4 linked regions of the Homo sapiens genome follow. The protein of the gene in region 1 interacts with the protein of each later gene in a pairwise test. Each region holds a gene or a part of one and is shown on either strand. Other genes may lie near its edges. The genes, in order: PTP4A1, ZNF212, GNL1 and CNNM1.

What was found.
Region 2: the proteins of PTP4A1 (region 1) and ZNF212 interact in a two-hybrid assay, tested with the Homo sapiens proteins (one study listed by BioGRID and IntAct).
Region 3: the proteins of PTP4A1 (region 1) and GNL1 interact in a two-hybrid assay, tested with the Homo sapiens proteins (one study listed by BioGRID and IntAct).
Region 4: the proteins of PTP4A1 (region 1) and CNNM1 interact in binary tests that used the Homo sapiens proteins (3 or more experiments, as listed by UniProt).

What each region holds. Positions count from the first base shown.
Region 1 is NC_000006.12:63,575,455-63,582,479, reverse strand, and holds part of PTP4A1 (protein tyrosine phosphatase type IVA 1), read right to left. Parts: intron 6,045-7,025; coding exon of another isoform or gene 5,949-6,044; 5' UTR 5,600-5,948; coding exon 5,495-5,599; exon of another isoform or gene 4,044-5,494; coding exon 3,951-4,043; exon of another isoform or gene 3,583-3,950; coding exon 3,452-3,582; exon of another isoform or gene 3,224-3,451; coding exon 3,149-3,223; exon of another isoform or gene 2,467-3,148; coding exon of another isoform or gene 2,424-2,466; coding exon 2,306-2,423; coding exon of another isoform or gene 2,269-2,305; 3' UTR 1-2,268. Other genes in the region: uncharacterized LOC128125822, read right to left, coding at 5,949-6,044. UniProt on the Homo sapiens protein: Protein tyrosine phosphatase which stimulates progression from G1 into S phase during mitosis. May play a role in the development and maintenance of differentiating epithelial tissues.
Region 2 is NC_000007.14:149,242,635-149,249,659, reverse strand, and holds part of ZNF212 (zinc finger protein 212), read right to left. Parts: intron 1-7,025.
Region 3 is NC_000006.12:30,553,472-30,561,351, forward strand, and holds the start of GNL1 (guanine nucleotide-binding protein-like 1), read right to left. Parts: upstream 3,019-7,880; 5' UTR 2,733-3,018; coding exon 2,660-2,732; intron 2,250-2,659; coding exon 2,084-2,249; intron 1,721-2,083; coding exon 1,584-1,720; intron 1,445-1,583; coding exon 1,293-1,444; intron 1,176-1,292; coding exon 1,104-1,175; intron 87-1,103; coding exon 1-86. Other genes in the region: PRR3 (proline-rich protein 3), read left to right, coding at 3,874-3,979, 4,679-4,741. UniProt on the Homo sapiens protein: Possible regulatory or functional link with the histocompatibility cluster.
Region 4 is NC_000010.11:99,332,339-99,339,363, forward strand, and holds part of CNNM1 (metal transporter CNNM1), read left to right. Parts: intron 1-7,025. UniProt on the Homo sapiens protein: Probable metal transporter.

The sequences.
Region 1 (7,025 bases):
TACAAAATATTTGGATAAAAAGCAAATTTCATCACATCGTATAATGTACAGATAAGGTTTATAAAGTAAATTAATTTATTTTTAGCACCATATATACAATCCAAACACTGCAAATTAATTTCTTTTCAAACTCAAAAGATAGTTTTCATTAATCATGATGGCACATCCTCTCTCTCAATAAACGCAAATGCTGTTTTATGGGCTGTGTGGTAATAGTTTAACATTTAGTAATTGATTATATAAAATTATGTTCTCAAGACTAGGCTGCATTTCCTTTAAAAAAAAAACAAAACCTCAGGTTAAAAATTAGCCAAAAATTTGTGATTACTATCACAAATAATCCAAGATTTAAATAACCAAGGGCCTCCAGAGGCCCCTGTTCTTCCTTTTGCCCTGTCTAAAATCCAATGAAATATATTAAGTGTTAAACTGGTATGAAGAGGTGGAACTAAATTCTTTGAAACACAAGGTGGAGTATCACTTTTTACTTAAACTTTGAGTCCTTTACATTTATAACTGCTATTCAAAAAAAATTAGACAAAGACATCTAGATTTAGATTAACGTGATCAAAGGGATTATTGTGGATCATTAAAGGAAACTTAACATTAAGCCTTCATGTACCAAATACTAATATTTAAATTAATTTCAAAATCTATAAAGGTATGTAATTATTAATTTGCAAAGGAGAAAACTGAGGCTCAGAAGTTGCACAAAACCATGAACTAGTGGAACTGAGCTTTACAAACCAAGGCTGTCCTCTACTATACATTATTTCTCCTCAGTACACAATAATAAATTGGTTCAAAATTATCTAGACCTTTAAAAAGTATATAATGGAAAGTGCTTTTAGTATTAAAGTTTTCATGAATGACCCTAACAAATTTTGTCTAAAAGTTTACTAAAATGCTGACATCATTTATAATCCTTCATTTATTTGTAAAAAGATGAGGACACACATTAAGTGAAGTGCAATTCATTTTGTCTTCTACAAAATAAGTTAATTTTAAGCAAACCAATCTCAATGATGATAAATGCATGTCATTATTTATTTAGATGTTTCAGCTCTCGCACTAAGTTTTTACAAGCTGGTGAACACTGACAAAATTATTTCTCCCACAGAACTATAACCACACATCCCCAGACAGTATAAATATATGGTTGAACTAACATTAATACACATCACCATTTTATCAATTACATAATAAAACAAATTGTCAAGTATCCAAATATTAAGTTACACAGCTCAAAAGGCATATAAAATATTAGATGTCTGCTCAATTCATTAGCAGAAACCCATTTCTTTTTTTGCAAGAGAGGTTGGGAAGGAAAAAAAAAATCACACTTTCAAACAAAAATAAGTTGGTAAACACACTTCTGATAAGTATGGGAAAAAAATTACAAGAATTTCAGGAAGTTTATGATTACAATAACAAAGCATCTCTACCTTTTAAAAAAATATTTTACTAAATTAAAGAGCATATTCTACATGTTTGCACAAGACAAAGGCAACATTTTGCTAAAAATAATTAATAGCCCCCTCCCATTCTTTTCTCAGGCCCTCCCTGTTAAGTTGCACCTCAGAGTGCAAACATTAAATTAATGTAAGGCTTTTTTGTCTGAAGACATTAAAGACATGTGCTTCTGTACAACGTAGATTTTCAAAATGGAGGTTTTTTTAATACAGCACAAAGTGAGATACATGGAAACACGTAAAATAATCACTGTAAGACTTGGTAAAAAAAAAAAAAAATCAATGGTTAAGCAAACCTGACGTATATTGGTATGAATGTGGGAGATGTAAACATAAAGTGAGCAGGCAAATAACCATGTAGGCCCTACTTTCAATGTTTGAAATGATTGAAGGAATAAACCACATAAGGTCTAGTGTTCATAGTTCCTGGGATTTTACTTCTGTATGGTACTAAAAATATACAAGTATTGTGCTGGGTATTTTGGCACCTAATCTTCCTAAATTTCTTATGTATTGATAAGATTCTGGCATGGGAATAGATTTAACAAGTCATAACTCAATACTGCATGATTTGGGGAAAGGTCAATTGATACAAATGACAAGCACATTTTATATGCTGACAGCAAGAATCTTTTGCCAAGTATCCAAATAGGTTGACTGTAACCCAAATACAGAGGTTGCCAAATCTGTCTAGCTTGAGGCCTGGTAAAACTGCCTTTCAATACTCCTATGGAAGCTTCATTAGACTTACTAAGCCAACATGTTGGCTAATATGTATAACAAATTAGGCCCTATCTCAAGTTCCACTTCCAGTAGCATTAGGCACCCCAATTTTATTGAATGCAACAGTTGTTTCTATGACCGTTGGAATCTTTGAAACGCAGCCGCATTTTAGGACGATACTTCTCCAAATACAGAAGTTGCTTGCTGTTAAAAGCTCCACGCCGCTTTCTGGGAGGAAAAAAAAAAAAAAATGAAACAAGGCAAAAGCCCCCTACAGTAATATTTAGTGTCTTATAGACAACCATCACCTCTCTTGTGGCAATTTATCTTTTGATTAATTAGGCTGTGACCTGATGCAGAAAGGAATATGAACAGGCACATCAGTGTAAATGGAAAAAATCATAAAAAGTTAATTTTCTTTATATCTTCGTTTGAGTATTGGTTACAACAGTCGACTCACAAATCCATTTACACGTAAGTCCACGAAAAGACAAAACTAATTTATAGTGAAGTCAGAAGTTGCCTCTGGTAGCAGGGAAGATGACTACAAAAGCCACAAAGGCATGTTCTACAGCACTCAAAATATTCTATGTGTTGTATTGGATGGTTAATTTGGCTGTTATTGTCAACTGGTCTCCTTTGGAGACCTGTGCATTTTATTGTATCTTTAAATGTATCTTAATTATACCTCAATAAAAATACAAAATAACCAACATATTCAATCAAGTATTTAAAGCAAAACAATAATTCAAAAACTCTTGTTGGATTAGAATCTTAGTAATATGAGCAACTGCATGAAATGCAAAAAAGAATGTAAGATCTTGATTTCCTGGTTTTAATACTATCTCAAAAAATAATCATAATGATTAAATGGGCTATTAGACTATTAAACTCACTGACACTCAACAAGGAAATGAAAGAGAGTACAAATGAAAAGAGAATCCATTACTTACTGTCTTATGAATTGTACTGCATCTTCGTATTTCATTCCACCTTCAATTAATGCTAGGGCAACAAGTACTGGAGCTCTGGTGAGGTAAGAATTTTGATAAATAGTTTTTTCAAAATCAGATCTTTGTAAATTTATTTCTCCAAACATTCCCCAACTCAGAAGTATTATCTACCACCCTTCCTATTTAAGTAATACCTATGACAAATGTTGACTTTATATTAAAAAATTATAAGAATTTTTCAAGTTTCTGTATTTTCATTATCAATAGATTTTTACCTAGAATCAAATTGATAAATTCATTTACCTCCCAAGGCCTGCAACGCAATGAACAGCAATACAACAACCAGGTTCTTCACGAAACTTAATTTTCACAAGACTTAACCAGTCATCAACAATCTGGTTGGATGGTGGTGCACCATCATCAAAAGGCCAATCCTAAGTCAGAAGAATATTTAAACATTTTAGATCATTAATATAAACACTGTAGTAATAATTCTAAATTTCTAACATGGAAATGTTTTCAAAAGCATTCTCATTTTAATGTTTAATCAAATCTTATTAAACCCTGTTGTCTACCAAATGTGACTAAATGCTCAATCTTTACAAAAATGTTTCACAACTTCAAATCCTTGCTTAGCTTTTCACCTTTATTTAGAAATTAAGATTCTGCACAATAATATAATATTTGTTTTTAGCTTTTTGAGGTCTATTTATGACTTAAATAGATATTTATTTGAATTTACTATTTGAATAAACTTTTGTAGCACAGCACCATAAACCCATAAGAACTGTTAAATACTTACAAGAACATGGATACCTTCTTTCTCCACAAGAGTAGTGTCATAAGTTGCTTCACATACTCTTACTATTGTGGTAACTCCATACTTCTTAAGTTCCTGGATAAAACGTACATTAAAAAAATCTTAATGTTTAACCACATCACTATAACTCAACATTTTATATTCTGATCATCTCTGATCAGTAAGTATGCTGGTTAACAGAAGATCATTTAAAGAATGCTAGAATCCATTTATGTTTAACACAAAAGCAAATTTTGTTTTAAGTGACAATGCTAGAATATAAAAAGAAAAGTGAATATTAAATACCATACATATTTTTAATAAACTGGAAAAGTTTTCCTTCTTTTGTTTAAATTGTGTGCCCCCTTCATACACTGAAGTTGTTTACAGTCATGGTAATACCGGATTGGGATGAAACATTAACCAAAAGGGGCTAGCAGCAATGCAGACAAAGGTAAATGTAACTAAAGGCATTATTTATAACTAATCGGGTAATCTGACTTCACTCAATTATACTCACTCCTTAAACTTTACTGATTTACATTGAATGAAGTCTTAACTACAGTAAAAAAGCCCACATACCATTTAAAACTACAGGCTTCAAAATGCATTATTACTAATTACATATTACTAATATAATATACTATTATATACACTATATAGTATATATTAGTGTATATATAATATATAGTAATAAAAATTAAAGTACCATTAAAGTATTTCCCAGCCAGGCGTGGTGGCTCACCTGAGGTCAGGAGTTCGAGACCAGCCTGGCCAATATGGTGAAACTACATCTAAAAATACAAAAATTAGCTGGGCAAGGTGGCGTACGCCTGTAGTCTCAGCTACTTGGGAGGCTGAGGCAGGAGAATTGCTTGAACCCGGGAGGCAGAGGTTGCAGTGGGCTGAGATCATGCCACTGCACTCCAGCCTGGGTGACAGAACGAGACTCCATCTCAAAAAAAGGAAAAAAAAGTATTTCCATTATGTTCTGAGAGGCCTATTTGCTATTTCTTAACAACTGTAGGTATTTATAAAATAAAACATGTGCACATCCCGATATATTATTCAGCATTCAATTCCTTTCTCCTAGTAAAAAGAGGCAGGTAGAGTTTTGGCTACATAGCTACCATTAGGAAGGAACAGAATTTGTAGTTGAAAATTGGATTCTAAGCATCAGATGGGGTTCAAGAAAAACCAACTGGTTTATGGCATTAGTCATTAGGTTAAGCAGATATATAAAAAATCCATAAATGGCAACCTTTCCCATGTAAATTTCTTACAAGATAAGTAAGAGCTATACTGTTTTACTGTCCACATACCAATTCAAGCAAACTCAGGTACAATAACTATTAACTCAAGCACATGCCCTTCTCAAAATGTACAAATATACCTCTAACCTATAGAAGACATTGACATTTATTTCTGGGAACTGGAATTGTAGGTATATCATCTCATTTTTTCCAAAGTAGTTTTTATTTTGTTAGCTATAAGTCCCACTATTATATTGCAATCAATTTAAGCTACTAAAACATATCAAATCTTACCTCTATAAATTTGTTTAAGGTCGCATTGGTTGGATTGTGTGTAATAAGAAATCTCATGTTCTTGTATGTGACTTCCACAGGAGCTGGGCGGTTCATTCGAGCCATGTTAATTTAGTTAAAAAACACTCAATAGGGTTATGAAATAATTAAAAAAATTGAATACAGAAATGATGCAAAGAAACTGAAGTCTACTTCAATATACTCCACTTGAAATTCTCAGTGCTTTGAGTATGAAGTTGTAAGTAATGATAAGTGAAATGAACCTCCTAACAAGAAGCAGCAATTCTTCAATCCAGTAATACTGAGGCCAACAGAAAAGAAGTGCACTGAGGTTTACCCCATCCAGGTCAGAACTCTTGTAAAATGCTCTGTGGATTTCAATTCAACACTTCTGTGTCCAGGATAACCACTCTTATGGGGGCTTCTTGGTGGAGCAGTAATCAGTTTCTACAGTTCACTTGTCTGCATAGAGGTCGTGCTGTGCCTGGCAGTAATCTCCACTGCCCTTCAGAAACTCCATAAATGTGTGACCAAGAACACCACAGAATTGCTGTTTAAAAGAAAAAGACAGAAAGAGAGAATAAGTTATTTTCCAATTCAAAAGAAATACATTAGGGTTTTACACTATTTAAGTACACAACTATTTTTCTAAAGCAGGGCCTGAGCCGCTTCATCGACTTTTACTTGAATTGCAAAACTCAAGGGGTGAGTACAGATTAAATCAATCAGCATAAAACAAGCAGTCAGATAGATTAAACTGAAATCCATGATCTATTACCAAGATTCCTCAGAAAAAAAAACCAAACCCATTGTTACATTTTTGTGAAATTCATATATATATTCATATATATTCTATCTAGTTATATTCTCTGTATATATACTATCTATATATAATATATAATTATATGATTCTAATAATTATCCCTTTCGATAGTTGTTTTCTTTACATTGTAATTACATACACTTTATGTTGATTTTTCCAACTAACAAAAACATTTTTACACATTAATACAAACTCCAGATAACTCTGAAGTTATTAGTCTTGCATAATTTACTTAACTCATAAACTGAAACATCTAAGTTCTTTTCCAACTTTATGCTTTTATATCCTTTTCTTAGACTGATTTAAGTCCTATATTTAGAATCTCACTTTATCCTTAACAATCTGTTATCATTCCCATTAAACTGAAGACGAGGAAAATGAGTCTCTGAAAATCAACTTGTTATGTGAAATATCATAAGAATGTATGCTTATGAATCTAAAAAGGAAACAACTCTCATTTATAACTGTAAAGAAAATATTCATAATTTTAATAATGTTCTTTTGTATTTTAAAACCAAAATTTCACATATACAACTCAAAACTGAAATCCAACTCAGAGAAGGCGGACAAAGGGATGTTGAAGGTGGAAGTGGCAGGTCTCAAAAGCAAGGTAACTACTGTAACCAATAAATATAAACAAATATGAATGTATTTATATTTTCTCTAAGTTCCCCCTTAAGAACTAAACCATTTTTATGCCAATATCAA
Region 2 (7,025 bases), on another chromosome or scaffold:
TGAGACCCTGTCTCAAAAAAGAAAAAGAAAGAAAGAAGCTGTTTGAATTTTGGTGTATTTCTAAAGTTTTTTTTCATCTTTTAGTTTATTTTTTTTCAACAAAAGTGAAATTATAGCGTGTATGTTCTGTTACCTATGCTTTATGCTTAGCATATTCTCTGAGACTCCTGTATCAGTGTTCATTTTTAAACCTATTTTTATTTAATGTTTTGGACTATATGATAAAAGATGTCACTTACATCTTATCTTGCTTCCACATCCCTGCCAGACTTCATAGTTGATCATGTCACCCGTTTGAAAACTTTCAATGGCTCCCCACAATAAAGACAAAATTCCTTAGCAGGACCTACAAGACCTAATTCATTCATCTTTGCACTCTAGCAGCTGGGATGGTGAATAAATCCTTAAAAAATATTTACTGAAATGATGTGACTAAGTCTACTGACATTTTCCTTATAATTTTCACTTTAATGAGCTGTCTCTGACAGTAGGAAAATCACTGTCATAGAAGCTAAAATTACTGAAACCAACACTGGGGAAGTCTTCCCCAAGCTGTCCCCCTACTGTCTCCCTGCACGTTCACTTCAGTCCTAACCCCCTCTGCAAACTTCACTTTATTTGAATAAAGCACACACTTTATTCAAGGCTGCTTCTCTAACCACAGTGAGGCCACCAAGACCGAGACACTAGAGGAAATATCTCGGAAAGAACTGCTGGGGCCAAGGGTTGTGGTCCAGAGAACATGGGACAAAAGGAAACTGACTGGTGCAGAACTGAACATTTAAGTTTGGCCATGACCTACTCTAGTTACTCAAGTCAGTTAATTCATCATGGAACACATGAGACAAAAGCTTAAATACATCCTCCTGCAAGAGATTAAAAGAAAAGTTCAATGTAAAAGACAAATACAAGCGAAACAAAACAAAATATTAAACTGGATATATGCATGCCATCATGTTTGTTTTGCTTCTACTTTAAGTCTGTGAGTCTCCTCTTTCTGTGGCCCAGCATTCTGTGCTCAGTAGCACTTTTTCTAGACAGGAATGTAGGTGAGAATCTGTGCAAAGGAATAAGCCCCCTCCTCTTCCACATAGTAAGAGGTTGAAAAGAATGATTAAGCTAGTTTCTTCTTGTCTTCTGTTTTGAATTATCTAGCATGATGGGAACAATTCAAATGTTCACGAACCAGTCAATGGATGAAAAAATTGTGATCCATCCAGTGTTATGGGTTGAATTGTGTCTCCTCAAAATAATACAGTAAAACCCTAATCCTCAGTACCTCAGGATGTGATCTTACTTGGAAATAAGGTACTTCCAAGGGTAATCAGGTTAAAATGAGGTCATTAGGATGGGCCTTAATCCAATGACTGATGTCCTTAAAACAGAGGACCTTTAGACGCAGACACACACACACACAGGGAGAAGATGTCTACTATGGTTTGTCCTCACCAAAACCCATGTTGAAATTGTATTTCCAATGTGGCAGTGTCGGGAGGTGAAGTCTCGTGGGAGGTGTTTGGGTCATGAGGGCATATCCCTCATAAATAAATTAATGCGCTCCCACAGGGGTGAGCTGTCATTGGCAGGAATGGATTAGTTCCCACTACAGTGGGTTGTGAAACAGTCTGACTTCTTTGGTCTCTCTCTTGCCTCCTCTGTCACCATGTGATCTCTACACACACCTGCTGCCCTTCCATTTTCTGCCATGAGTTTAAGCAGCTTGAAGCCCTCACTAGACACAGCTGCCCAATCTTGAACTTTCCAGCCACCAGAATTGTGAGCCAACTAAACCTCTTTTCTTCATGAATTACCCAGCCTCATGTATTCTGTTACACCAATACATAATGGGCCATGTCAAGATTAAGGCAGAGACTGGACTTATGCTGCCACAAACCAAGAAAACACATGGGACCACCAGAAGCTAGGAGAGAAACACAAAACTCATAAGGAACCAACCCTGCAAACATCTTGATTTCAGACTCCTAACCTCCAGAACTGTGAGACAGAATTTCTGTTATTTAAGCTTCCCAGTTTGTTACACCAGCCCTAGGAAACAGACACACTATATAAGACACTTCATTATATACCGTATTATATATTTAGTGTATTTTTCCTATATAGCTTAGAAGACTACTAAGCCTGCTACTTAGTAGTAGACTACTACTTCGACTACTAAGTCTACTACTATGTAATAAAAAGGAACCAAAATCACTGACATGTTTAACAACATGCTAAGTGACGGGAATCAGACAAAGGTCAGGCACGGTGGCTCATACCTATAATCCCAACACTTTGGGAGGCTAAGATGGATCACTTGAGCCCAGGAGTTCAAGATCAGCCTGGGCAACAAAGCAAGACCCCCACCTCCACAATTTTTTTAAAATGAGCCAGACGTGGTGGCATGTGCCTATAGTCCCAGCTACTTGGGAGGCTGAGGATGGGAGGATCACTTGAGCCCTGGAGTTCAAGGTTGCAGTGAACCATGATCACACTACTGCACTCCAGCCTGAGTGACAAAGTAAGACCACTTAAAAAAAAAAAAAAGAAGGGCCGGGCATGGTGGCTCACACCTAAAATCCCAGCACTTTGGGAGGCCGAGGCGGGCGGATCACCTGAGGTTGGGAGTTCGAGACCAGCCTGACCAACATGGAGAAACCCCATCTCTACTAAAAATACAAAATGAGCCGGGCATGGTGGCGCATGCCTGTAATACCAGCTACTCGGGAGGCTGAGGCAGGAGAATCACTTAAACCTGAGAGGCGGAGGTTGCGGTGAACCGAGATCACACCATTGTACTCCAGCCTGGGCAACAAGAGCAAAACTCCAAAAAAAAAAAAAAAAAAAAAGAATTCAGACACAAAAGGCTACATTTGTGTTTCATTTACATGTTTGGAAAAAAGCAAACTATAGGGACAGAAATCAGATCAGTGGTTGCCAAGGGCTAGGGATAGGAGAAAAATATTGATTATAGGCCAGGCACAGTGGCTCACACCTATAACCCCAGCACTTTGGGAGGCCGAGGAGGGCGGATTGATCATGAGGTCAGGAGATCAAGACCATCCTGGCTAACATGGTGAAACCCCATCTCTACTAAAAATACAAAAACAAAATTAGCCAGGTGTGGTGGCAGGTGCCTGTAGTCCCAGCTACTTGGGAGGTTGAGGCGAGAGAATGGTGTGAACCCAGCAGGCGGAGCCTGCAGTGAGCTGAGATCACGTCACTGCACTCCAGCCTGGGCAACAGAATAAGACTCCGTCTCAAAAAAAAAAAAAAAGACTGATTATAAAGGGATATGAGGGAACTTTCTTGGATGATGGAAATATTCTCTATCTTGGTAATATGCTGGCTACACATTTGTCAAAATTTGTTGAACTATCTGCCTAAAGAGTAAATTTTACTGTATGTAAATGGTATCTCAATAAACACGTCTTAGAATGTCAAAGTAGGAGAAAATGCTAGCTGTAATAAAAGATAACATAAACAAAGTCTAAAAACAAGGAGAGAATATTTGTAAACAGAATATGAAGTGGAAAAAGGTCAAGAACCCCAAAATAAAACTGCAGATTGTAAATCATTCATGGAAGCGGAAATGCAGGCAGTCAATAAACAAATGAAAACACAACCACCTTACAATCAGGAATCCAAATATAACTAAGTGAAAGCACGTTCACCCATCAGACTGACAAACATGAAACAGACACAAAGAATAACATTCAGAGCTGACTATAATGTGGTAAACTGACTCTCATAACACTCCTGGAAGGAATGAAAAATACTACACACTCTTAGGGGAAGAAAAATTTCAAGTCATTAAAAACCCTTTTACCTAGCAATCCCACTTGGGGAATCTATGGCTGGGCACAGTGGCTCGAGTCTGTAATCCCAGCACTTCGGGAGGCTTGAGGCGGGAGGACAGCTTGAGCCCAGGAGTTCAAGAACAGCCAGGGCAAGATGGTGAAATCCCATCTCTACAAAAAGACAATAAAATTAGCCAGGCATGATGACAGGTGCCTATAGTTCCAGCCACTCAGGAAGCTGAGGTGGGAAGATCACTTGAGCCCAGGGGATTGAGGCTGCAGGAAGCCATGATCACACCACTTCCCTCCAGTGACAGAGAGAGATTCTGTCTCAAATAAATAAAGACACGGTCTCACTCTGTCACCCAGGCTGGAGGGCAGTGGCACGATTATACGTCCTGGTATTACAGGCATGAGTCACCCCACCCAACAGAAAAGTGACACATTTAGGATGAATTTCAATTCATAAACATAGTATGCAAATCCTTTTTTTTTTTTTTTTTCTGAGATGGAGTCTCTCGCTCTGTCGCCCAGGCTGCAGGCTGGAGTGCAGTGGCATGATCTCAGCTTACTGCAACCTCTGTCTCAGGTTCAAGTGATTCTCCTGCCTCAGCCTCCCAAGTAGCTGGGATTACAGGTGTGTGCCACCACTCCTGGTTAATTTTTCTGTATTTTTAGTAGGGACAGGGTTTCACCATGTTGCCCAGGCGGGTCTCAAACTCCTGACCTCAAATGATCCACCTGCCTCAGCCTCCCAAAGTGCTAGGATTATAGGCATGAGCCACCATGCCCAGCCTTTTGAGACTCCATTTTTAATATCTTTCAATGTTTTAACATTTTCCCTAGGTATCTATTCCAACCATCAACTCCTGTATGACAAATAATCCCCAAATTTAGTGGCTTAAGACATCATCATCTACTTTGCATGTGAATCTGCAGTTAAAGGAGGGTGGCACATGGATGGTTCGTCTCTGCTCCACTCTCTGTCAAGTGGGGCAAATCACAGGCAGCCAGGTGCTAGAATCCCTTGAGAAATCCCAAGCCACATGAAGAGGGTGCATGAAGTGTTCTGTTCAACGGCCTTACCTACAATCTCAGTCTACACACCAGCATCAACCAATAGACATGGGAATGCACACATTTTCATTCCCAATAGGTTTTTATTTTTGCCTCCTCTCTTTTGTTTTCATTTTGTCTCTACACTTTGATATTATATACTGATAGATATATGGATTAAAAAAATCATTTCTGGCCAGGTGCAGTGGCTCACGCCCATAATTCCAGCCCTTTGGGAGGCCAAGGTGGGCGGATCATGAGGTCAGGAGATCGCGACCATCCTGGCTAACATGGTGAAACCCCATCTCTACTAAAAATACAAAAGAATTAGCCGGGCGTGGTGACGGGCTCCTGCAGTCCCAGCCACTGGGGAGGCTGAGGCAGGAGAATGGCATGAACCCGGGAGGCGGAGCTTGCAGTGAGCCGAGATCGCACCACTGCACTCCAGTCTGGGCAACAGAGAGAGACTCTGTCTCAGAAAAAAAATAAAAATAAAAATAAAAATAATCATTTCTGTACCTGTGCTTCCAATATAATATCCACTAGTCACATGTGGCTGGTTAAATAAAATTAGCCGGGCACAGTGGCTCGTGCCTGTAACCCCAACCCTTTGGGAGGCCAAGACAGCCGGATCACTTGAGGTCAGGAGTTCAAGACCAGCCTGACCAACATGATGAAACCCTGTCTCTACTAAAAATACAAAATTAGCCGGGTGTGGTGGCACATGACTGTAATCCCAGATACTCAGGAGGCTGAGGCAGAAGAATCACTTGAAACTGGGAGGCAGAGGTTGCAAGGTTGCAGTGAGCCAAGATTGCACCACTCTACTCCAGCCTGGGTGACAGAGTGAGAGTCTGTCTCAAAATAAATAAATAAAATTTAAAACTCAGTTCCTCAATCATACTAGCTAACATTTCAAGTGCTCAAAAGCCACATGTGCCTAGTGGCCACTGTATTAAACAGTGCAGAGCAGAACATTTCTATCATCTTGGGAAGTTCTACTGGATGCACTACACCCTTATAAGTCTTTTCTATTTGATAAAATACTAAGGTTGTATTAAAATCTCCTATTATAACAGTGAATCTTTCTCGCAATTCTGTCAGTTTTGTTTTATATATTTTTAGGCTATGTAATTAGGTGCATACAGGTTTAGAAATTTTGTATCTAGCTGGTAAATTGAGTCTTTTACCATTACAAAAGTAGTAGGAGCCTTCTATCTCTAAAGATACTAAATATATTTGTCAACTTTATTTTCATTAGTATTTGCTTGGCATATTTTTTCATGACCTTTTATATTCAACTGTTTCTATATCCTTATCTTTTAGTTGTATCTCTCTCTCTCTCTCTTTTTTTTTTTTTTTTTTTTTTTTTTGAGACGGAGTCTCACTCTGTCACCCAGGCTGGAGTGCAGTGGCGCAATCTTGGCTCACTGCAACCTTTGCCTCCCAGGTTCAAGTGATTTTCCTGCCTCAGCAACCTCCGCCTCCTGGGTTCACGCCAGTCTCCTGCCTCAGCCTCCCAAGAAGCTGGGACTACAGGCACCCACCATCACATCTGGCTAATTTTTTGTATTTCTAGTAGAGACGGAATTTCACTGTGTTAGCCAGGATGGTCTCAATTTCCTGACCTCATGATCCACCCAACTTTGCCTCCCAAAGTGCTGGGATTACAGGCGTGAGCCACCACGCCCAGCCGGTTGTAACTCTTTTAAACCATCTAGTTGGATTTTTCCCCCATCCTGACAATCTATGCCTTTTAACTTGAACATTTCATTCATTTACATTTATTGTAATTGTTCATTAGCTTTGATTTATTTTTACCTTTTTTGTGCTATTTATCCCATCTTTCTTCTCTACTTTCTTGTCTTCTTTTACATTAATTTTTTCTTATTCCATTATCCCCCTTTCTGATCTGTAAGTTATACGACCAATTTCGAGTTGTTTAGCAAGTATCCTAGAAATTATGGGAAACATACATAGAAGGCCCTTTAACAAAGCCCTTTAAACACTTTAGTTCTGATCATCTCTTCCTCATATTTACATCAATGCCATCATGTATTTTAATTGTTTTTAACACAACAAGAAATTGTTACGTTTTATTAAGTCACTATTTGTTTAGATTTAACCATTTCCATGCATCATCACATCTTCTCATATTTTCAGACTTTCTAT
Region 3 (7,880 bases), about 33 Mb from region 1:
AGATCCACCTTGTTCAAAACCAGCACCAGGGCCAGTCCAAGTTCTCCAGTCACATACTCATAAAGTGCTGGCGGGAAATTCACAACCTAGGACAGAGTTGATAAGAGGATGGAGCAGTGAAAGTCAACCCAGAGTTCTCTGCCTCCAGCTCCCCACTCAGCAGGTGTAGCTCAGAGACAAGGCCCTGGTGGTAGCAGACTCTGGGCTAAAAACTATAAACCAGACAAACTGAAAAACAAAGACAAAACAGGGGTTAGTAATACTTCTGAGTCTCAGAGGGCTTCCTATAGGTCATGATTAGAGATGGAAATGAACCCAAAACAAGACAAGGAAACAGCATCACTTAGCACACTGAGGTAAAGGCTGGGATCGGAAACAGGGATGGGGGTTAGGGTAGAAATTAGTCTGCTTTTTTGTGTGTGCACAACTATGTAAGTGTGTACACGTGCATATATGCATGCATGCAAGTACGTGCACATGTGTGCATGTTTGTGTGTTAATGTGACTGTGAACATGTGTGCAAACATGCCTGTGTATATTGATGTGCACATGATGTACGTGTGAGTATGTGTGTGTACATATTATTAAGGACCTCCAACCTAAATGGTCCTCACAGACCTCCCTTTCTCCCACTGGAGGACAAGAGTGAAGTTGCAGAGCTAGGATTCACACAGGGCAGTCCAGCAGCAGTCTACAGCCTTAACTACTACTCTAGCATTCCAGGTGGGTTCTGTAGCAACTGATGTGGCAGTGCTAGAGAAATGAGATAAGGAAGAAAGGGCATCTTTGGGCTGGGCAGGAGGAAGTCCCCAGCTGCATTCATAGAATCCCTGGAGCTCCAACACTTGGATTTTCTATTGGTCTGTGATGAGCTAAAGGACAGGACATGGCTGTTTTGAAGAGAAGAGTGAGCTGGCCAAGGGAGGAATGACAGGCTATAAGAGAATAAAAAACTGAGTTCCTAACTGCGGACATCAGCACTAGGTAGAGATTAGAAAGACAGGAAGATAGATACCTCTCTGTCTCCCAACTCTTGCCTCTGACCTTTGCCCCTGAAAAACCTTTCTCCCTCCTCCTTGCCCACCCTTATCCCTAGTACTCACTGGATGTCGGATATCAGTGATAAGCAGGACGATGTCAGACATCTCTAACACCCGCCACAGCTGCCTCCATGTCTAAAAAGACAGGATCAGGAAGAGAAACTGAAAACAGAGTCCCTCTCCAGCCTGATCCCAAACCAATTTGACCATAGGTCACTATGCCCCACTCCTGTCCCTAGAGTACACTGTCACCTCCAGATTGTGCTCAAAGTAGCTGAGTTTCTCAGAGGAGTAAGCCCCATGAATCTTCCCAAGATAGTCTTGGAAGCTCCGTTCCTCTTGGCTCATTAGTTGCTCCTTGGACATCTCATAGCTCCAAGGAGGACGTCGAGGAAAGTCCAGAACTGGGAATTCAGGAAAAAGTCCAAGTGTGAGGAAATCTTCAGGATTCAAGAGTACATCCCAGACCCCTCCTTCCTCACAGTCGGCTTTTACCTTTCCAAACTCCTTCCCCAGCCCAATGCCTGTCTTGCTCTCACTCACCTGAGCCAGGCTGATACACCTCCCGGATGTCCAGCTCCAACAACTCAGCACTGACCGGCTGTAGAACTTGCTCCCGGGCTGCTCTCTTTCTCCTCTCTACCTCCTCCCTGCTGTCTCTCTCAAAATGCAGTCGGTATCTAAGGGAACAGGGACCGAGACATCCAGAGCAATCCTGTGGCCACAAACTCCTATTTTCTCCCCTCTTGTACAATCAACTTCGCAAACCATTCTCTCCAGAGTCGTTCAAGTCTCCTCTCTCAAGTCAGACTTCCCCCAAGTCCTTCTTTCAGGCAATACTCAGCCTTCTCCTTCTAAAAGCCCAACTCTCTCCAGCCCCTCTGGAAAGGAAGACTGTGGCCCGCTGTGGGGAGCCGAGTGGCTAGCGGAGAACTGTGGCATCCCAGGCCCACCGTCTTCACCAGTAGCAGCCCGCTTTCCCCCAAAGCTCTGACTTCCGGGTAGGCGGGAAAGCCGGGACCAGCGCCCCCTCCCACCCTCACCGATTTGGGTCGTAGCCTCGTGGACCCAGCCCCTGAGAAGGCTGCTGGTTAAGCCTGCGGATATGATGGGTCACAGACTCCCCGTCCGAGGTGTCGGTCTGTTCCTCTCGCCGCTCCCGGCTCCCGCTGCGGCTGTTGGAACTGGAGCGCAGCCCATCTTGAAGCCCTGCGGGGAGGGGCCGGTGACGCCAGTGCTGGCCAGCTCTCAGGGGCCATAAGACCCTCTCCCCCATCGGCCTGACTCCCTTTCATCCCACTCAACTTCTTCCGATGTTCAGTCCTCCCAGACACCCTATTTGGGACCCTCCCGGATGTGCGTGGGGGGAGTCACTCCTTCAGGGAGCAGTGGGGACGGCGCCCCGTGCTAGCTGGAGGGATTCCCCTCCCCCAACTCTCCATCCTTCCCCACCCCTTCCAGATGTAGGGGGGGTGGGGGATCCCCTCCGCGATAGGCCGCGAGGGTTGACGCGGTCCCACGACCCCCTCCCACGATCCCCAGAGGTGCAGCGGGCACACCCCTCCTTCCAGATGTGCGGAAGCCCGAGCCCCGCCCCCTCCTCCCGCTCCCGCACTGACCTCTCTTCCGCTCCCGTTTGTCCTGCAACTGCTTCTTCTTCTGCTTCACGCTGAATGGCTTCTTCCTCGGCATGGCCCGGACCAGTCACCTGGCCCGCCCTCCGCCGAGCTCCCGCCGCCTCAACTGACTGCCCCCCGGGGCAGCCCCCGCCGCAGGGGCCCGGGACCCTAGAGGAGGCGGGGCTAGCAGGTGACGTCAGCGGGCGGGCCCGACAGAATTACCGCCGCGGCGGCGATGGAAGGCGGACGGGGGAGATATAGTCACTTCCCTCCAGGAGCGAGGCGAGAGGATGATGCGGGGTGGGCTACTGGCACGTGAGAGCCAGTGGCACCGAGAGGGCGCCCCGGCGGCGAGGAAGGAGGCGCGCGTGGGAGGACCAGGCTAACTCCGTCACGGACGCTACCAACTCGCGTTCGGAGGAGGGGGGGCGCGTGTCATCACTACCTTGCGCTCCCGGGAGAACCTACCACTCACCTGGAGGGGGCGGCGGAGCGGAGGGCGGGGCCTACTACCTAGGGGAGAGGGGGCGTGGACACGCTGAGGCTATACTACAAAGCCCCGGGCTTGACCTTAGTGGAAAGCCGAGACTGCGTCCAGGTTGCTGGACTACACCGGGGGCACGGTCAGAGGTCTTTAGGGGAGGGCGGCGGTCTGAGAGTCCTGGGTGCCGACCTGTTGGGACCCAAATTCCTTGTGGGAACGATGATAAGGAGCAGGTTTACAGATCATAAGTGCAAAAGCGGGCGAGAAGGGAAACCCAAGCGGGACAAGGACTTTTGGGGGGAGGTCAAAGGGCACGAAGTTGTGCCTGCAGCTGTTACCATAGTAACCGAGGACCGGATGTGGCGATCTTACGGTGCGACAGTCCTCTTCTCAGGCCCTCTGGCCCGAGAGCCTGTTGACTCTGTGACACACTCTGAGGAGCTGGTTGTGGTGTTTTCCAGCGAGGGAAGAAAAGAGTAATTTTTTCAAAGCATTTATAGAAACGCAGCAAAGGGAAGGTGTGAGGTTGCCGCCATGCCTGGCAGAGACGGAGGGAGGCAGTTGGCTCCGGAATGCGGCCGCCGCAGATGTTCTCCGCAACCTTCCGGAAGTGGAATGGCGGGAGCCTCAGCATTGCTGCCCACCGACCCCCCGGAAGCGGAAACAGAATCCCCGCGTGCCCCTTCCTCACTACCCTCCAAATCCCGCTGCAGCCATTGCCGCAGACACGATGCCGAAACGAAAGAAGCAGAATCATCACCAGCCACCGACACAGCAGCAGCCCCCGCTGCCCGAGCGGGAAGAGACTGGAGATGAGGAGGATGGGAGTCCCATCGGTGAGGGGTCTGGGAGGGATGTGCACATGCCTGTCAAGCCCGTCCGGGCAAGGGGCTAGGGGCTAATAAGGTGCGAAGGAGGGGGCTGTAACGGAAGGAGGAAGGGCGCACGCGCTGGGGAGGGATGGAAGTGGGGCTCTCCCAAATGGAGCCTTGAACCAGGAGTTCTCTTACTGGAACCATCAACCTCAATACGGCCCCAGACCTTTCTGGAGAAGGCGGGGGTGGAGAGAATAAAGAGCTCTTTTGCGCAGCCGCAGAACAGTAGGGGAAAGGGGTAGTAGAGATGTTGCAGATTGCGATGACTGGGATGACAGTTTGTATCCAGACTTTGACTGAAAAGGTACAGGTGCAGCTTTCTCTAAACTAGTCCTCTGGCCAGCAGTTAAGGTGAGGGATTGGTTCATGTCTGGAGACACTTAGGTTGTTTTGGATAGCGACGGTACGGTGAAGAAAAAAAGTTGTCAGTATCTTTTCCTGCATTATCCCCTTTGATTGAATATCTACTTTTTGCAAACCCTGAAACAGCTTTGCAGAAAAAAGGGCAGATAGATGGGGTGAGAACTCCCAAGACTGCTGAAAATATACCTGACTTTACTGGTTGAATTAAGAAATAAGTAATACAAGAAAAACACCTAAGAACAGAATCATCAGTCCTTTAATCCATTCTGATGACCATATTTTCATGTCTGCTCTTAGGACCACCCAGCCTTCTGGGCCCTCCCCCCATGGCCAATGGAAAACCTGGCGACCCTAAGTCAGGTGAGGAGGAAGGGGCCCTGATCCTTGTATTAGGTCGTAGAGAAGACAGCAAGGGAGGGGATAAAACCCAGGAAGGACTTAAAAATAAAAGATCAGGGATTCCATCCCTAAATGAATGGAGAGAAGTTGTATATTTGCTGATTTAAAAACTCAATGTTGTAAAAATGTCACTTCTTCCCAAATTGATAAACAGATTTCATGCATTCCAAGTCAGAACACCCATAATGTTTTTGTGGAAATACACATTATTATAGGGAAATGCAAAATATCAAGGCGACTATCAAGACAATCTTGAAGTGGGAGGGCTTACTATGAATATCAAGATTTGTAAGCTGGGCATGGTGGCACACGCCTGTAGTCCCAGTTACTCAGGAGGCTGAGGTGCGAGGATCCTTTGAGCCCAGGAGTTTTTGAGGCCACTCTGGGCAACATAGTGAGATCCTGTCTCTAAATACAAGAAGAAAAAAAGACTTACTATAAAGCTACAATAGTTACAACGATGCAGTTTGGAAACAATGATAGACATAAGTCAATAGGACTTATGTCCCGAAGAGTCCAATAACAGGCCCATACATGTGTGGACACTTCATTTATGATGAAGATGGAACTGAAAAGTTGGTCTTTTCAATAAATGATATTGGATCAATTGGATATTCATGTGAAAAAAATGGAATTTCACCTTGCACTCATAATCATATACAAAGATCTATTTCAAATGGACTGTAGATCTAAGTATAAAAGGTAAGAGAATAATTATTCTAGAAAGTAAATGTATTTTCTAAGAGTAGCTAAGAGTTCTTAAACAGACAAGAAATGCACGTATACACACTAACCATAAAGGAAAGATTGATAAATTGAACTCCGTTAGAAAATATAAATTTGCGGCTGGGTACAGTGGCTCACGCCTGTAATCCCAGCACTTTGGGAGGCCGAGGCGGGCGAATCACGAGGTCAGCAGTTCAAGACCAGCCTGACCAACATGGTGAAACCCCTGTCTCTACTAAAAATACAAAAATTAGCCGGGCATGGTGGTGTGTGCCTGTAATCCCAGCTACTGAGGAGGCTGAGACAGGAGAATCGCTTGAACCTGGAAGGCGGAGGTTGCAGTGAGCTGAGATTGCACCACTGCACTCCAGCCTGGGGGACAGAGTGAGACTGTCTCAAAAAAAAGAAAAAACAAAATACAAACTTGCCAAATAATACCATTAAGAAATTAACAGGAAGCCATACAATAGAAGATATTTGCAATAAATATAACAAATAAAGATCCTGTATCTATAATATATAAAGAACTCTTCCAGACAAGCCATTTGAAAAATTGACAAAAACACAGGACACCTTATTAAAATGGAGATCTAAATGAACTAAAGGTCTAAATGAACAAGTACTCAATATCATTAATTGTCAAGTAAATGCAAGATAAAAATATACCACTTTGAAATTAGAACTCTTGTGTACTGCTGCTGGGATTATAAAATGGTGAAACTACTATAGAAAACAATATGAAGAGGTTCCTCTTAATTAAAAATAGAACTACCAGATGACAAAAAAATTAAAAATAGAATTACCCCAGAACTCCTGCTTCCAGGTATATATCAAAAAAAAAAAAATGGAAAGCAGGGTCTTGAGATATTTGCAGACTCATGTTCATAGCAGCAGTATTCACAATAACAAAGAGGTGGAAGCAACCCACATGTCCACTGATGGAAGGATAAATGTGGCGTGTACATACAATGGAATATTATTCAGCCTTATGAAGGAAGAAAGTGCTGTCACATACTACAACATGGATGAACTTTGAGGACTTTATGTTAAGTAAAGACATAGTGTATTATTCCACTTATCTGAGGTGTCTAAAGTCAAATTCAGGGGCTGGGCATGGTGCTTCACGCCTGTAATCCCAGCACTTTGGGAGGCCAAGGCAGGCAGATCACTTGAGGTCAGGAGTTCGAGAACAGCCTGGCCAATATGGCAAAACCCTGTCTCTACTAAAAATAGAAAAATTAGCTGGGCATGGTGGTGCACACCTGTAATCCCAGCTACTCGGGTAGCTGAGGCATGAGAATTGCTTGAACCTGGGAGGCAGAGGTTGCAGTGAGTCGAGATCACGCCACTGCACTCCAGCCTGGATGACAGAGCAAGATTGTCAAAACAAAAAATAAAAATAAAGTCAACTTCAAAGAAACAGTAGAATGATGGTTACCAGAGGCTGGGGGAAGGAAGCTGGAGGAAGGGGAGTTTTGTTTAATGGGTACAGAGTTTCAGTTTTGCAAGATAAAAAACTTTTGGAGGTCGGGCATGGTGGCTCGTGCCTGTAATCCCAGCACTTTGGGAGGCCAAGTCGGGCGGATCATGAGATCAGGAATTCAAGACCAGCCTGGCCAATATGGTAAAACTCCATCTCTACTAAAAATACAAAAATTAGCCAGGCGTGGTGGTGGGCGCCTGTAATCCCAGCTACTTGGGAGGCTGAGGCAGGAGAATCACTTGAACCCAGGAGGCAGAGGTTGCAGTGAGCCAAGATCGCGCCACTGCACTCCAGCCTGGGCGACAGAGCGAGACTCCATCTCAAAAAACAAACAAAAACTTGGAGATCTGTTTCACATCAATATGAATATATGTAACACTACTGAACTGTACACTTAAAAATAGTTAAGATGGTAATTTTTATGTGTTTTTTACCACAATAAAAACCGAACAAAACAAGGCATGATGATTCATGCCTGTAATCCCAGCACTTTAGGAGACCAAGGTGGGAGGATCACTTGAGCCCAAGAGTTCAAGACCAGCCTGGGCAGTGTGGCAAGACCCAATCTCTCATTAAATAAATAATAATAACCAAACAAAAAAATAACCACCACTTTTCACACTCACCATGGCAAAATTTAAAAACCTAACAATTCCAAGTGTTGTCAAGGCTATAGGACAACTGCTGGTGAGAGTGCAAATTGGTATAACCACTGTGAAAAAAAAGTTTGGCATTATGTATGAAACTTGAGCATAACATATACTTTATAAGCCAGTAATACCTCTACTACGTATATATTCAACAGAAATGCATACGTATGTGTAACAACATGTATAAAAATGTTTATAGTGGCATTTCTCGTTATAGCCCCAAACTGGATACCACCCACAT
Region 4 (7,025 bases), on another chromosome or scaffold:
TTCAGATTCAGCCTTCAGATATAGCTTCCTAATGGCTAGCAGTACTCTCATTTAACTGCATTTTGTATAAATTTTTTGTCAAAAATTTAATGTCATGATAATTTGAGCCCGAGGCTGCAGTGAGCTATGACTGTGCCACTGAACTCTAGCCTGGGTAACAGAGCAAGACCCTGTCTCAAAAAAGAAAGAAAGAGAGAGAGAGGAAGGGAAGGAGGGAGGGAGGGAGGGAAGGGAAAATTCAATCTCACTACTTTAACATCATAAATAATCTTTAGAACTTTGAATACAAACAAATCTGGGGTCTTTTTCCTGCCACAATTTTTGAAATCATATTAAATATTAAAATGTAGCCTGGAAGGGGGGAAAAAGGTCTAAAAGCTACTTTCAGTCTCAGATTTGAGAGAACAGCCCTAGACTTTGTGTTGGTATGATGAGAAGGGAGAGAAATGTATATATGGCAGCTATTTTAGTCCATTTTCGGTTGCTGTCTCACCCTGTTCAGTCCATCTCGCCTTAATCCTTGCATTCATAGTTCCCACTGCAACTTGAGGTTCATCTATCCACTCTTAGAATTATGCTTACATTTTGTATATCTTACAGAAGTAGGGTCTTAGATCTGGGCATTGGGTGGCATAAACCACAGAAATTTATTTCCTCAAAGATCTGGGGGCTAGCAGTCCAAGATCAAGGTGTCTGGCAGGTTTGGTTCCTTCTGAGGCGTCTCTCCTTGGCTTGCAGTCACCACCTTCTAACTGTGTCCTGACATGGTATTTCCTCTGTATGCATGCATCCCTGGTGTCTCCTTGTGTGTCCAAATTTTCTCTTCTAACAAGGACACCAGTCAGATTGGATTAGAGCCCACCCTAATGGCCTCATTTTAACTCAGTCACCTCTTAAAACTGATAGTTAAGATACAGAGCAGTTAAGATAGTGTCTCATTGTCATGTGCTGGCAGAAGATGTTTTAAATGAAACTCCTGTGAACTCATTCATTCATTTGTTTAGGTTTGTTTGTTTGTTTGTTTGAGACAGAGTTTCACTCTGTCGCCCAGGCTGGAATGCAGTGGCGCCATCTTGGCTCACTACAAACTCTGTCTCCTGGGTTCAAGTGATTCTTCTGCCTCAGCCTCCCAAGTAGCTGTGATTACAGGAGTGCACCAACACGCCTGGCTAATTTTTGTATTTTTAGTAGAGACAGGGTTTCACCATGTTGGCCAAGCTGGTCTCGAACTCCCGACCTCAGGTGATCCACCTGCCTTGGCCTCCCAAAGTGCTGAGATTACAGGCATGAGCCACTGCACTTGGCCTCATTTAGTATTTTTTAAACATCTATACAGTTTTAGGCAACAAGGGAGACAGGAAGACTGTCCTCAGGAGGTTAGCAATATACAGGGCATAATGAGCAGTCTTTCGAAGCAGGAATTGTCATATCAACTCTTATATCCCCAGCACCTTACACACTGCCTTGTAAATAGTAAGCTGTTCCAAAAAGTTGATATTGATCTGAAATGAATCCCTGTGCAGAATTTCTAAACCTGGTCGAAAAAAGCTCCTTTAGTGTTCTATTAATAGCTACTTTGTATTTAGGTAGAGCACTAAAGAGAAGCAAGCCATTACAGAGAATACTATACCAAGGAAGATATTTCCACTTCCTTTCATAGCCTTGCTACTTCCTCAAAGTAAGGTCCGTGAAACAGCAGCATGAGTCTCACCTGGGAACTTATTAGAAATGCAGAATTTTATGCCTCACCCTAAATCCACTGAATGAAAATCTGCATTTTAGCAAGCTGCCAGGTGGCTCCTATGTAACATTAAAGTTTGAGAAGCATTGCCTTCAGAGACCCCTTATTAACAGTGTTTGGTAGATCTACTTAAGATAGAATATAAGACATAATGAACAAGGTGGATGTTCTCAGGCTGCAAGCCATATAACATAGTGGTCATTTTCTTTAGGAGTTATACATTTGCACCATAGGTTAGGAGGTGAAAGCTGGGTTGAACTGCTTTCCTTTACCTTTAAAAATAACGTTTTTGGCTGGGCGCAGTGGCTCACGCCTGTAATCCCAGCATTTTGGGAGGGCGAGGTGGGTGGATCACCTGAGGTCAGGAGTTCGTGACCAGCTTGGCCAACATGGTGAAACCCCATCTCTACTAAAAATACAAAAATTAGCCAGGTGTGGTGGCACACACCTGTAATCCCAGCTAATTGGGAGGCTGAGACAGGAGAATTGCTGAGACAGGAGGCGGAGGTTGCAGTGAGCTGAGATCGCACCACTGTACTCCAGCCTGGGTGACAGAGAAAGACTCTGTCTCAAAATAAATAAATAAATAAGAAAAAAATAATTTTTAAAGCTGGTCTTTAATAGCTCTTCCATTTTCCTTACTTCCTTGCTTCTCAAGTAACGTAACCACCAACAAATCCCTTCGAAGGTAGAAGAGGAAAATGACGATATTAATAGGAGCCACAGTTACCATTAATTGAGCACCAACAGTTCTTCCAGGCACCATGCCAGGCCCTTTACATACTCAGAACAACCCTCCTGGGTAGATGTCATTAACTACATTTTACAGATGAAGAAACTAAAGCTCGGATCAATAACATGACTTGTACAACTTTCCATAACTAATAACTGACTGAACTGTGATGTGAACTACATCTGTAGGACCCGAAAGCCTGTTCTTTCCCTGCTACACCTGTCTTATTCCTTCCTCCATCCTGGAATTCCTGCCACCCACAGGGTTCAAAGGTAGCCTTTTCACCTCTGATTGCTGCCCATGGCTGATTCACCTCCAGTTTCTGCAGGTTAGTAATGTAGCTTTATAATTACAGTAATTGCTAACATGCATATTGCACTTGATAAAACATTTCTATATACCTTCTCTTGTCCAATCTTAAACAACTCTGCAGTTACAGGTGATGATATGGGATTTTATCTTTTTACTTCTTATGAGTTGCAAGTCTTTAGAAGTGGGGAAGAGGAAAATGGTCTTTCACACTAGAGTGTGAGGTTTACAAAAGGGAACAATATTTCTCACCACTGGACTGTAAGTTCCTTGAGGACAGAGAATGAATCTTACTTATTTTGTATTCTCAGGACAAGTATAGTGACCGCCATGGCTAGGGGATGTATAACCATTTATTGAATAAATGGTTTTAAATACCTAACTTCTATATTTCTATGTTTGAGTGAGGTGAACCCTAAGTACGGAATAATTAATGTTGTTCCTTGATCCCAGCAAATCTCTCCTCTTCCTCTTCATGGGCCTCTGTCCCCAGTAAGTGGCACCACTTGTCCCTTTAGTCTCCCAGACTAGAAAGCTTTCCTTTGCATTCACCTCATCCTATTAATCATTGTCGTCTGCACAGGCTGTCATTAGAAAATAGCATAGACTGGTGACCTAAACAACAGAAATTTATTTTCTCGCAATTCAAGGCTTTGACATCCAAGATCAAGGTTTTGGCCAACTCAGTTTCTGGTGAGGACGTTCTTCCTGGCTTGCATGTGGGTGCCTTCTCTCCATGGCCTTTCCTCAGTGCCTGTCCACAGACAGCAAGAGGCTCTGGTCCTCTCTTCTTAGAAAGACATCAATCCTGTTGGATTAGGGCCCACCCTTATGCCATCATTTAATCTTAACTACTATACTTCCTTAGAGGCCTCTCTGGGTGTCGTTAGGGCTTCAACATATGAATTTTGTGGGAAGACAAACATTCAGTCCATAACAATCACCAAAGCTGGCCAAATAATTGGATGCCAATATTGCATCCAACTGCAGTCATGTCATTTTGGTCAATGATGGACTGCATGTATGATGGTGATCCCATAAGATTACATTGGAGCTGGAAAATTCCTGTCACCTAGTGATGTCCTAGCAGTCATAACACCTAACATCGTCCTAAGGCAACACATTACCTTTACTATGTTTAGATACGCAAATACTTACCATTGTGTTACAATTACCTACAGTATTTGGCACAGTAACATGCTCTACAGGTTTGTAGCCTAGGAGCAATAGATTATAACATATAGCCTATGTGTGTAGTACACTATATCCTCTAGGTTTTGTGTGACTACATTCTATGATGTTCACACAATCATGAAATTGCCTAGCAATGAATTTCTCAGAGAGTGTCTCCATAGTTAAGCAGTGCATGACGATTTCTTAAATCTGTACATAATTTAATCCACTATTTGTTCCACTTAGGTTATTCACTGATTTTATTCAACAAATAGTTGTGTTGGCACAGTGGAGAACATCATCAACATAGTCCTTGTCTCTATAGAGCTTCACTCTAATACAGGAAACAGAAATTAAACGAACAGGATAGTGATTAAGAACATAAGATTTGGCCAGGCGTGGTAGCTCACTCCTGTAATCCGAGCACTTTGGGAGGCCGAGACAGGTGGATCATTTGAGGTCAGGAGTTAGAGACCAGCCTGGCCAACACAGTGAAACCCCGTCTCTACTAAAAATACAAAAATTAGCCGGGCAGTAATGGTGCACACCTGTAATTCCAGTTACTCAGGAGGCTGAGGCAGGGAGGTTGCAGTAAGCCAAGATCATGCCACTGAACTCCAGTGGCAACAGAATGAGACCCTGTCTCAAAAAAAGAACATAAGACTTACTAGAATGCCTGGGTTGATACTGGCCCTGGGCAAATTACTTAACTGTTTATGTCTGTTTCATTAGCTGTAAAATGAAAATAATACTAATATTTACTCATAAGATTGTGTGAAATATTAAGACTATCGCATTATGCTTACTTACTACCTGTCATGTAAGTACTAAGTAGATGTTAGCTATGATTATTAAATATAAACACAAGTCTATTACTCATTTATGCAAATGCCTCCTAAGAAGTTACACTTTTTCACATTTTTGTCTCCCTCAAATTCGTTCTCTCTAGTGCCACTAAAATAATCTCCAGTAATGTCACTGCTTAAAACCCTTCAGCAGCTCCCCGCTGCCTACGGGAGAGAGGCTAAGCTGGTAAGGCAGCCAGCAATGCACTCATGACCTGCTTCTTGCCCTCCCCTCCAGCCTCATCGCTCACCACTCCCTGCCACAGCTTTACCCTCCAGCAATGCTGAACTCTGTGGTGCACTGTGCTATTCTTGCCTTTGTCCCTTTATTCACATTGCACTTCTGTCAGGAATATGCTTTGCCTGACTAATTCATTGCCAGCTCTTTGACACTCAGCTCAGGGGCCTCCTCCTCTGGGAGACTTCTCCTGTAAACCCCAAAATACAAAAATAGATTTTTTGGCCAGCTTCATTGTTTTATGTGCATATCTCAATCATTGAACTAACAAGCTGTACTACCAGTGTTTGTTTATAAGTGCCTCCCACCCATATAATGAGCATCTCCAGGGCAAAACTGTCTTATCTGTCTTTGTAGCTCCAGCAGCTAACGATGCATATGACACATAGTAAATTTTCAATGAATGTTTGTTTAAGGACTGAATGGATGACTTAAGGAGTTAAACTTTAATATAATGGAAGAGATCTGCAGAGCACTAGAAAATGAATTAAATCATTTTGGACTATGCAGCAGAACAAATCAAACTTATAAGTTTGTTAGTGTTAGAAGAAAAGTGTTGCATCTATTGTTTCTCAGCTTCTTTAGGTACATCTATTAATATTTATTACAACAATTTCTTTTCACATGTAAAGCACTGTGCTAAGAGTTAGGGGTATGAGATAAAATCTCTGTTCCCAAAGAGCCTAAAGCATAGTGGATGAATAGCACTTCCCTTTGCAAAGCTAGAAGGCAAGCTGGACACTCACCTTTCCCATGACTTCCAGTGACCTTGAATTTACAAGTCATGTCTCAGTATATAAGTACAGGATATGGGTAAGACAGACCTTGGTACATAAAGCATTAAAATGAAAGTGCTATACTAGAAATGCAAAAATGCAATGGGAACATGGAGGATACAATAACTATGACTAGGTGGCATTTTTTTTTTTTTTTTTTGAGATGGAGTCTCACTTTGTCGCCCAGGCTGGAGTGCAGTGGTGTGATCTCGCCTCCCAGGTTCAAGCGATTCTCCTGCCTCAGCCTCCCAAGTAGCTGGGACTACAGGCATGTGCCACCATGCCCGGCTAAATTTTTGTATTTTAGTAGAGACGAGGTTTCACCGTGTTGCCCGGGGTGGTCTCGAACTCCTGAGCTCAGGCAATCCGCCAACCTCGGCCTCCCAAAGTGCTAGGATTACAGGTGTGAGCCATTGCACCCAGTCATATTTTGCTTTTATAAATTTTTTACTGAAGTTTATGTTTCTATAATTTATACAGAAAAAAATTTAAATATAGAATAGTAGAAAAAAGAAGTATGAAAATCATATGAGGATAATCATCCCACTATCCTGAAATAGTAACTCAATATTTTGTCATATTAAAAATATATTGCACATAATAACAATCTTAATGAAATTCTTAAAAAGAAAACAAAAGGAAAAGCCCATTGTCCTGCCATCAAGCACAAATCAAATGTCCCATTCTAATCTTAAGAGTGATTTTCTTATAGGGTGGTATTTTTGCTATAGTTTCCTCAGGGTTGAGTGCTATAATTTGGGAAGACTAATTTTAAAAATGGAGCCGTAGAGATTTATCATACTTCTTAAATTTACTACTCTATTATTGGATTGCTTTTAGGAGACACTGAGTTCTGTATAGACAACAGGGGAAAGGAATAAAGCTTTGTTCTGAAGTCAAAGCTTCTGAGTAATACAGCACTGACTGACATTTAACTCAATTAAACAATTCAGCTTTGCTGGGCTAGTAACACCATCTTTGCAAACAAAAAAGCACAACCCACGTATGCTAGGCTGCTCCACCTGTACACTAGCATGGCTGTAACACAGCCTACTGCACAATCCATACTCAGTCTTTGCTTATTCATTGATTCATTCAGTAAACATTTTTTGAATTCCTGCTTTGGGCCAGGCATTACACTAGACTCTGGGAATACAGTGGTGAGCTAGGCAGACATTATGGAGCTAAAAATATCCTCTTCCATCTTTGG